Linked DNA regions of Homo sapiens. The protein of the gene in region 1 interacts with the protein of each later gene in a pairwise test. Each region holds a gene or a part of one and is shown on either strand. Other genes may lie near its edges.

Evidence for each region.
Region 2: the proteins of TRIM32 (region 1) and NTAQ1 interact in binary tests that used the Homo sapiens proteins (3 or more experiments, as listed by UniProt).

Annotation. Positions count from the first base shown.
Region 1 is NC_000009.12:116,693,805-116,697,304, forward strand, and holds part of TRIM32 (E3 ubiquitin-protein ligase TRIM32), read left to right. Parts: intron 1-3,500. UniProt on the Homo sapiens protein: E3 ubiquitin ligase that plays a role in various biological processes including neural stem cell differentiation, innate immunity, inflammatory resonse and autophagy.
Region 2 is NC_000008.11:123,433,774-123,437,273, reverse strand, and holds part of NTAQ1 (protein N-terminal glutamine amidohydrolase), read right to left. Parts: intron 1,833-3,500; exon of another isoform or gene 1,762-1,832; coding exon of another isoform or gene 1,732-1,761; intron 822-1,731; coding exon 673-821; intron 65-672; coding exon 1-64. UniProt on the Homo sapiens protein: Mediates the side-chain deamidation of N-terminal glutamine residues to glutamate, an important step in N-end rule pathway of protein degradation.

The sequences.
Region 1 (3,500 bases):
TTTGGGGAAACTGAAGTCAAATTGACCTTCTATCTGAGTCATTCTCAGTATTACAGTAATGACCAGATGTGCCCTTCTGGAGGAGACGGGCTCTATCTGCCTGTCTCTTAGCTCCATTTCAGGCTAAGATCCTTCACAAAGCAGTGTTTTCAAGTCATGGAAGTGGGAAAAGTGGTTCTGGCTTTTTCCAGGTTTGAGACTATTTCCGTGCCTCATGCTTTAGTGAGGGGAACACAGGTTTTCCTGGCAAAGCATGGCAGCTTTGGGGCAGGAATTCTTGACATCCTCAGAGAGCTTGGTGAAGCTGTAGTCAGCTGAGATAATTTGGGGATGTGGGCATAGTAAATTCATTTTTTTAAACCTGATGTCTTAGACAGAGAGGTAGGAAGCTTTTCAATTGAAGGAGGGATATGATATTCCAGAAAGCTTGGGAAATAATTTGCTGCTATTTTTACAAGTTGGCAGCCTTGTTTAATAAACTGATCTGCACTGCCAGCTCTGGGAAGAACACAGATGTCCCTGTGCATTGTAAGGTAACGTTCTAGATTCAAACTCCAAATGTCCTCAGTCTGTTGTCCCAGATGATAGAAGAGAGAACTGTAGCTATTGATTTAGAATTGAGAAGGGTTGCATGGATCCTGAGTTGTAATTTCTCTTTTTTTTTTTTTTTTTTTTGAGATGGAGTCTCGCTCTGTCACCCAGTCTGGAGTGCAGTGGCGCGTCTCGGCTCACTGCAAGCTCCGCCTCCCAGGTTCATGCCATTGTCCTGCCTCAGCCTCCCGAGTAGCTGGGACTACAGGCGCCTGCCACCACGCCCAGCTAATTTTTTTTTTTTTTTTTGTATTTTTAGTAGAGACGGAGTTTCACCGTCTTAGCCAGGATGGTCTCGATCTCCTGACCTCATGATTCGCCCACCTCAGCCTCCCAAAGTGCTGGGATTACAGGCATGAGCCACCACGCCTGGCCCTGAGTTGTAATTTCTATCAGTATGTCTATGCTATTGCCCCTAGACACTTGGCATTTAAGAATTTACCATTCATAGTTTCAGATATCCACATCAGACCTCATACGCTCATGATATATGGTAAATATTATTTTGCTGAGGTATGGATTTGAGTCATAATGGGTTGCAAGCTTGCTGTGTGAGAGTAGGTCACTCAGCTAATAAATCAATCTATCCCACTCTATAGCAGCAGAATCTCATAACTATATTAGTGTTCCTTCTGTGTTATGGAGAAAATGCGTATGCTATAAGGCAGCATTCCCCAGAGCGTGGTCAAGGGAACATTAGTTAATCATTGTTATGTGACAGTAAAAAATAGCTTGAAATAATGTTGGGTTAAATAAAGTAAAAATATCTGTACTTCAAGGTTCCACTATGTTTGAGCTGTGTGACCTTGAGCAAGTTTTTCTGAGCATTCGTTTCCTCATCTGTAAAATAGGATAATAAAAATATTACCACTTCATAGTGTCATCATGAAGATTAAAAGAGATTAAGCATATAAAGTATCTGTCATAGTAACTAGCATATAATAGGCACTAGATGCATAGTTTCCCTTGCAGTACAAAGGAAGTGGGATATCAGGGAGGAAGGATTAACTTTAGATAATTGTGCATGTCTGCTGCTATATATTTGTCAGATTGCATTCCAAAGCTAATATGGTAGAAATTTGTTGTAATGTATATCTCTACATTAACTCCCCTTCTTCTCTATGCCTGGAGAAAGAGTTGATGTCATGTGCAAAGTGTTCTTGAGCTAAATGCATTGTCCTTAAAATCAAACGAACTTGCCCTCCACTTCCTCCTTCTCCTGGGTGGTTGACCATCTGCAGATCACAAGACTGCACAGATACAGCTGTAGGATTTGCGTTTATGAAATGCTGACTTTATCATATGCCTCAACTTGCTAGACCTATTCATTCTGATTTGGGGTATACGTTGACAGTGACCTAAGGCTACAGAGCACTGAGATCTCTCTGGGTCAACTTCATAAGTATATGTATATCAAGAGGGTTGGAGTGTTCATGGTTTGTATTGGGTGACGCAGAGGGTACTCTAAGCCAGAAATAAACTGTCTTGATAAGGCACTGCTATTTTTTAAATCATCTAGGCTTGAGTCTTTGGCTATCTCTGCTCTTCACCACTCCCCCACCATAATCCACTCACCTTTCAAATCTTACTGACTATACTTCTGGATATTGCTCAAATGAATCTTTCCATTTCCACCACCTGCTCCCTAGTTCAGACTCCCCATTATCCCCGTCTTCTCTGATGTTTCCCCACTCCATTCCTGCTTTGATCATATCATCTTCCTGCTTCAAAACATTCATCACCTCACCATGCCCTTGAAAATGACGCTCAAAAATCTCATTTTGGCTCTGAAGACCTTTTATAATTATTCCCCCAATTTACCTTTCCAAGTCTGTTACTCTATTCCCCATATATACTCCCACAGTTTTAATCTAAGGATAATAAAAAAGAGAACTAAAATTCATTAAAGGCTTTTTTGGTGCAGAGCCAAATCTTAGCATTCTATACACTCTATATATTATTTCATTCTTACATTAACTCTGTAAAGACAGTATTTTTCCATTTTAAAGGTGGAGAAAATAAAATGCATAGAGTTTAAGTATTCTCTGTTTTCTTTCTAATACATGAAACTTCTTGTCCTTTCCTTTGCCTTTTATACTTTGTTAAGGTTGTGCCTTTTGCCCACTTCTTTCTTCCCTCTCCATGTATTTATGCATCTTTCCAGGCCAATATAAAATGTCATCTTCCCTTTGAAAATTCTGTATCCCTTCAGATTGGAATGACTCCTCAACCCCCATCAAACTTAGTTTTTATTTCGTTTATAGTACCACTTTCTGCCTTCATTATTATTTACCTACATGTCTTGTCTTTTATAAAGTTTGAATATCTGAAGAGCAGGATCTGTATCCTAAAGACCTCTTGTATCTAGTACAGAACAAGATACCTAAACTTAGATGGGTGGATAGGTGAGTAAGTAGGAGGATAGATGCGTGGAAAATGTGTATTTTCTGATCTGATGTTTTGCAGATCACCTAAAACTAATCATCACAATTTTCTGCTTCTGTGGATGATTCCTAGGCCCCCAAACATGACACAATAAACTCTGTGACATGATTAAAAAAAAAAAAAAAAGCCTCCACACTTTTGCTTACATGGTTTTCTTTGCTTAAAGTACCTTTATCCTCATTCCTTCATTTCTTTCAAGACATATCTTAGGAGTGAAACTGCTTTTGGGAAGCCTTCCCCAAGTCTGTTAGGTAGAATCCATCATTCCATCCACTGTACTCCAGCAGAACATTATGTGGACTTGCATGTTATACTTATTCCTTTTACTGTGCATAATTCTCCTGTGCTTTTCTCTTAGTGTAAATCAGAAGTTGTAAAATTCACCAAATATGAAAATAATCATTAGCTCATTAGCATTTATTACAAGTATACTACTTCCCTGGTGCTATACTAAGCACATCATA
Region 2 (3,500 bases), on another chromosome or scaffold:
CATGTGAGATCGGTCAGAAGCAAAGTTCTTCAAATATGAATCTGCACGGATCACTCTAAATTTCCTGCAGAAAAATCAATATACACTCACATTAGGGAGATGTCATGTTTGAAATTCTAACTCCATTTTTATATCGACTCATTTCCTATGACATGCACAAAACTACTCATGCATTTCTGTATGGTTAGTAATACAGGCAACTTTACTACCTATTAGAGAAGCATAGGAAATGATCAACCAAACCCCGAAACAGAAAGGCAAAGGCACAAAAATATATCTGGTTGCCTCGATTTACTCGATTTGTGTATCAAGGGCAATGGGCATGATTTTCTGATGCTGCCCTCACAGCCCTCTCAATGGTGACAGCACGAGGTATCCCCACAAAAACAAAAAGAATATAAGAAAAATCCCCAACCCGCTTGAAATTAAATGTCTGAGATCTCATCACACAAAATTTTAAAAGAATGACAACCTTTCATATGATAGATAACTTTTAAAGCTTTAAAACATTTTGAATCTCCTGTGTTGCAAATACATCATTCTTAAACATCAACTCAATGGTGATGTCAGACGAGATCTTTACAAAACAATTGTCAAAAAAAAAAAGAACCTCTGTGGAATCGTCAAATTCTTACTTCAGAAAATAAGTAAATCCATCTTGAATGTCCTCACCTCCTAAACTGTGGGTGAATGTCATCATCAGACTTAAAGGCATCTTCTACATAAGTGTCAAAGAGGCAGGGAAATGGCAAGACAGTATCGAGATCATAAATGAAGTTCTGTCCTCCACTTGAAACATGAAGCAAAACAACATGGTAATCCTAAAAGTAAAAGTTGCTGAAGTTAACCAAGTTACTTCATAATGATGAAATCCCAGTATTCAGACACATACCTTATCACTAAAAAGGATATAGGACTGCTACAGCCCTCCTTATAATAGCAAAATAGAATAAAGCAAACACAACACCCTGAAAACATGAAAACAGACTAAATGTCCACAGATAGGGAAATGGTTAAATAATGGAAATGTTCATAGTCATTAAATGCACATCCTCTGAAACTGCAATTTTACCTCTAGGAAACTTTTTTTTTTTTTTTTTTTTTGAGATGGAGTCTTACTCTCGTCACCCAGGTTGGAGTGCAGTGGCATGATCTCAGCTCACTGCAACCTCCACCTGCCGGGTTCAAGCAATTCTCTTGCCTCAGCCTCCCGAGTAGCTGGGATTACAAGCGCGCACCACGATGCCCAGCTAATTTTTTGTATTTTTAGTAGAGATAGGGTTTCATCATGCTGGCAAGGCTGGTCTTGAACCCCTGACCTCAGGCGATCCACCCGCCTCAGTCTCCAAAAGTGCTAGGATTACAGGTGTGAGCCACGGTGCCTGGCCCCACATATTTTTTTTAATTGAGACAGAGTCTTGCTCTATCACCCAGGCTGGCGTGCAGTGGCATAATCTCAGCTCACTGCAACCTCCGCCTCCTGGGTTCAAGCGATTCTCCTGCCTCAGCCTCCTGAGTAGCTGGGACTACAGACACCCGCCACCACGCCCAGCTAATTTTTGTATTTTTAGTAGAGATGGTGTTTCACCATGTTGGCCAGGCTGGTCTCCAACTTCTGGCCTCAAGTGATCCCCCCGCCTCAGCCTCCCAAAGTCCTGGAATTACAGGTGTGAGCCACAGTGCCGGCCCCACCTGCTATTTGTTAAAAGCTATCTGTATATAAAGACATACGTGCGCATTCAGAAGTACATTTGCATGCATGTGAATGCAGAGGAAAACGTCTGCAAGGATCTGCTCCAAACTAGTAACAAAGGAGGCTTCTGGGGGTCAGCCTGGAGAGGAGAAGGAGGACTTTAATTTCTAGTTTGGAACCACTTTTGCAATTAAAAGAAAGGAAAAACTATTTTTTAAAAAAAGAAGTTAGCCAAGCTTTCATCTGTAGCCACTAAGGGAGAAAGAAAAAGACAGCTTTTCCCACACAGCTCTGTCACAGTGTGGATGTTAATTCTCACCCTCACTCTCAGACTCAAGGTACTGCCCAACACCAGCGATGAGCTGAAAGGGATTTCAGGGAGGTGATCAAGGGACATGAGCAATGTGGTGCTCTGAGTTCTTCCAAAGAAAAACGCTCTCATAGAGAACAGCACTGTGAAATCAAAGCAACCTAGCAACATTAGTAATACCAACTTATATTTCTACAATATCTTAGAGTTTAAAAGGCACTTTCTTTCTCAAATATCATTCTACTTGAGCCCTGTATAAATCCTGAGGTAAGAACAATACTTAAGACTAGGGATGCTGTGCCTTTAAAAGCCTGAGTGCTGCCTTTGGCTCTAAGTCTGTCTTAGCAAAACAGAAAGATTCAAAAATGAATGCCTATTCTCTGGACTTCCCCAGATACATCCTATCCTCCACGCCCCCAAACAGTCCACCACTGCCTCCCAATGGGTCTGCTCATGTCATTCCCCTCCATCTGCAGCAACCTTCTCTACCTCTTTCTACCACACAAGCTCCAGCTAAAGGCTTTCTTCCCACGAATCAATTTTTTATCTTCTCCCACCCCCTGCCAGAATCTCCGCCTTATCCAAATTCTGTTTCTCTCTTAACATCTTCTAATTCATATTACAGGTTTGTTGTTGTTGTTGTTTTGAGACAGAGTCTCTCTCTGTCACCCAGGCTGGAGCACAGTGGCACAATCCCAGCTCACTGCAACCTCCACCTCCGGGGTTCGAGTGATTTTCCCACCTCAGCCTCCCGAGTAGCTGGGATTACAGGCGCGCCACCACACCCAGCTAATTTTTGTATTTTTAGTAGAGATGGGGTTTCACCATGTTGACCAGGCTGGTCTCGAACTCCTGGCCTCAAGTGATCTCCCTGCCTCTGCCTCCCAAAGTGCTGGGATTATGGGTGTGAGCCACTGTGCCCAGTCCCATATCAGTTTTTTTGAACCACACATTATCTATTCTATGTGAAAGACTGTGCTGCTGAACTGCAGATGCAAAGATGAAAAAGATAAGTTCTCACCCTCAAGAAGTTCCCAGAGAAGTGAATGGGAACCAGGTAAACTGCTGCAGGATATTGTGGAGAACAGAGAACATCAGAGGCAGGAGAGCAATGCAGGCAGGAGAGCAATGCAGGCAGGAGCAGGTAAGCGCCTGGTTCCAATCTCAGCCCCTCCCCTCGGCAACCTCACTCTGCTCTTTTATAAAATGGAGATAACTGGAGTATCTAACTCCAGGGTGTCCAATCTTTTGGCTTCCCTGGGCCACACTGGAAGAAGAATTGTCTTGGGCCACACATAAAATACACTAACACTAACGATTGCTGATAAGCTAAAAAAAAAAAAAATCACAAAAAAATTTCATAATGTTTTAAGAAAGTTTACAAATTTGTGTTGGGCTGCATTTAAAGCTGTCTTGGGCCACATGCAGCCCATAGGCTGCAGGTTAGACAAGCTTGGTCTACCTCATAGTGCTGCTAGAAGCATTAGTGTGTAAATG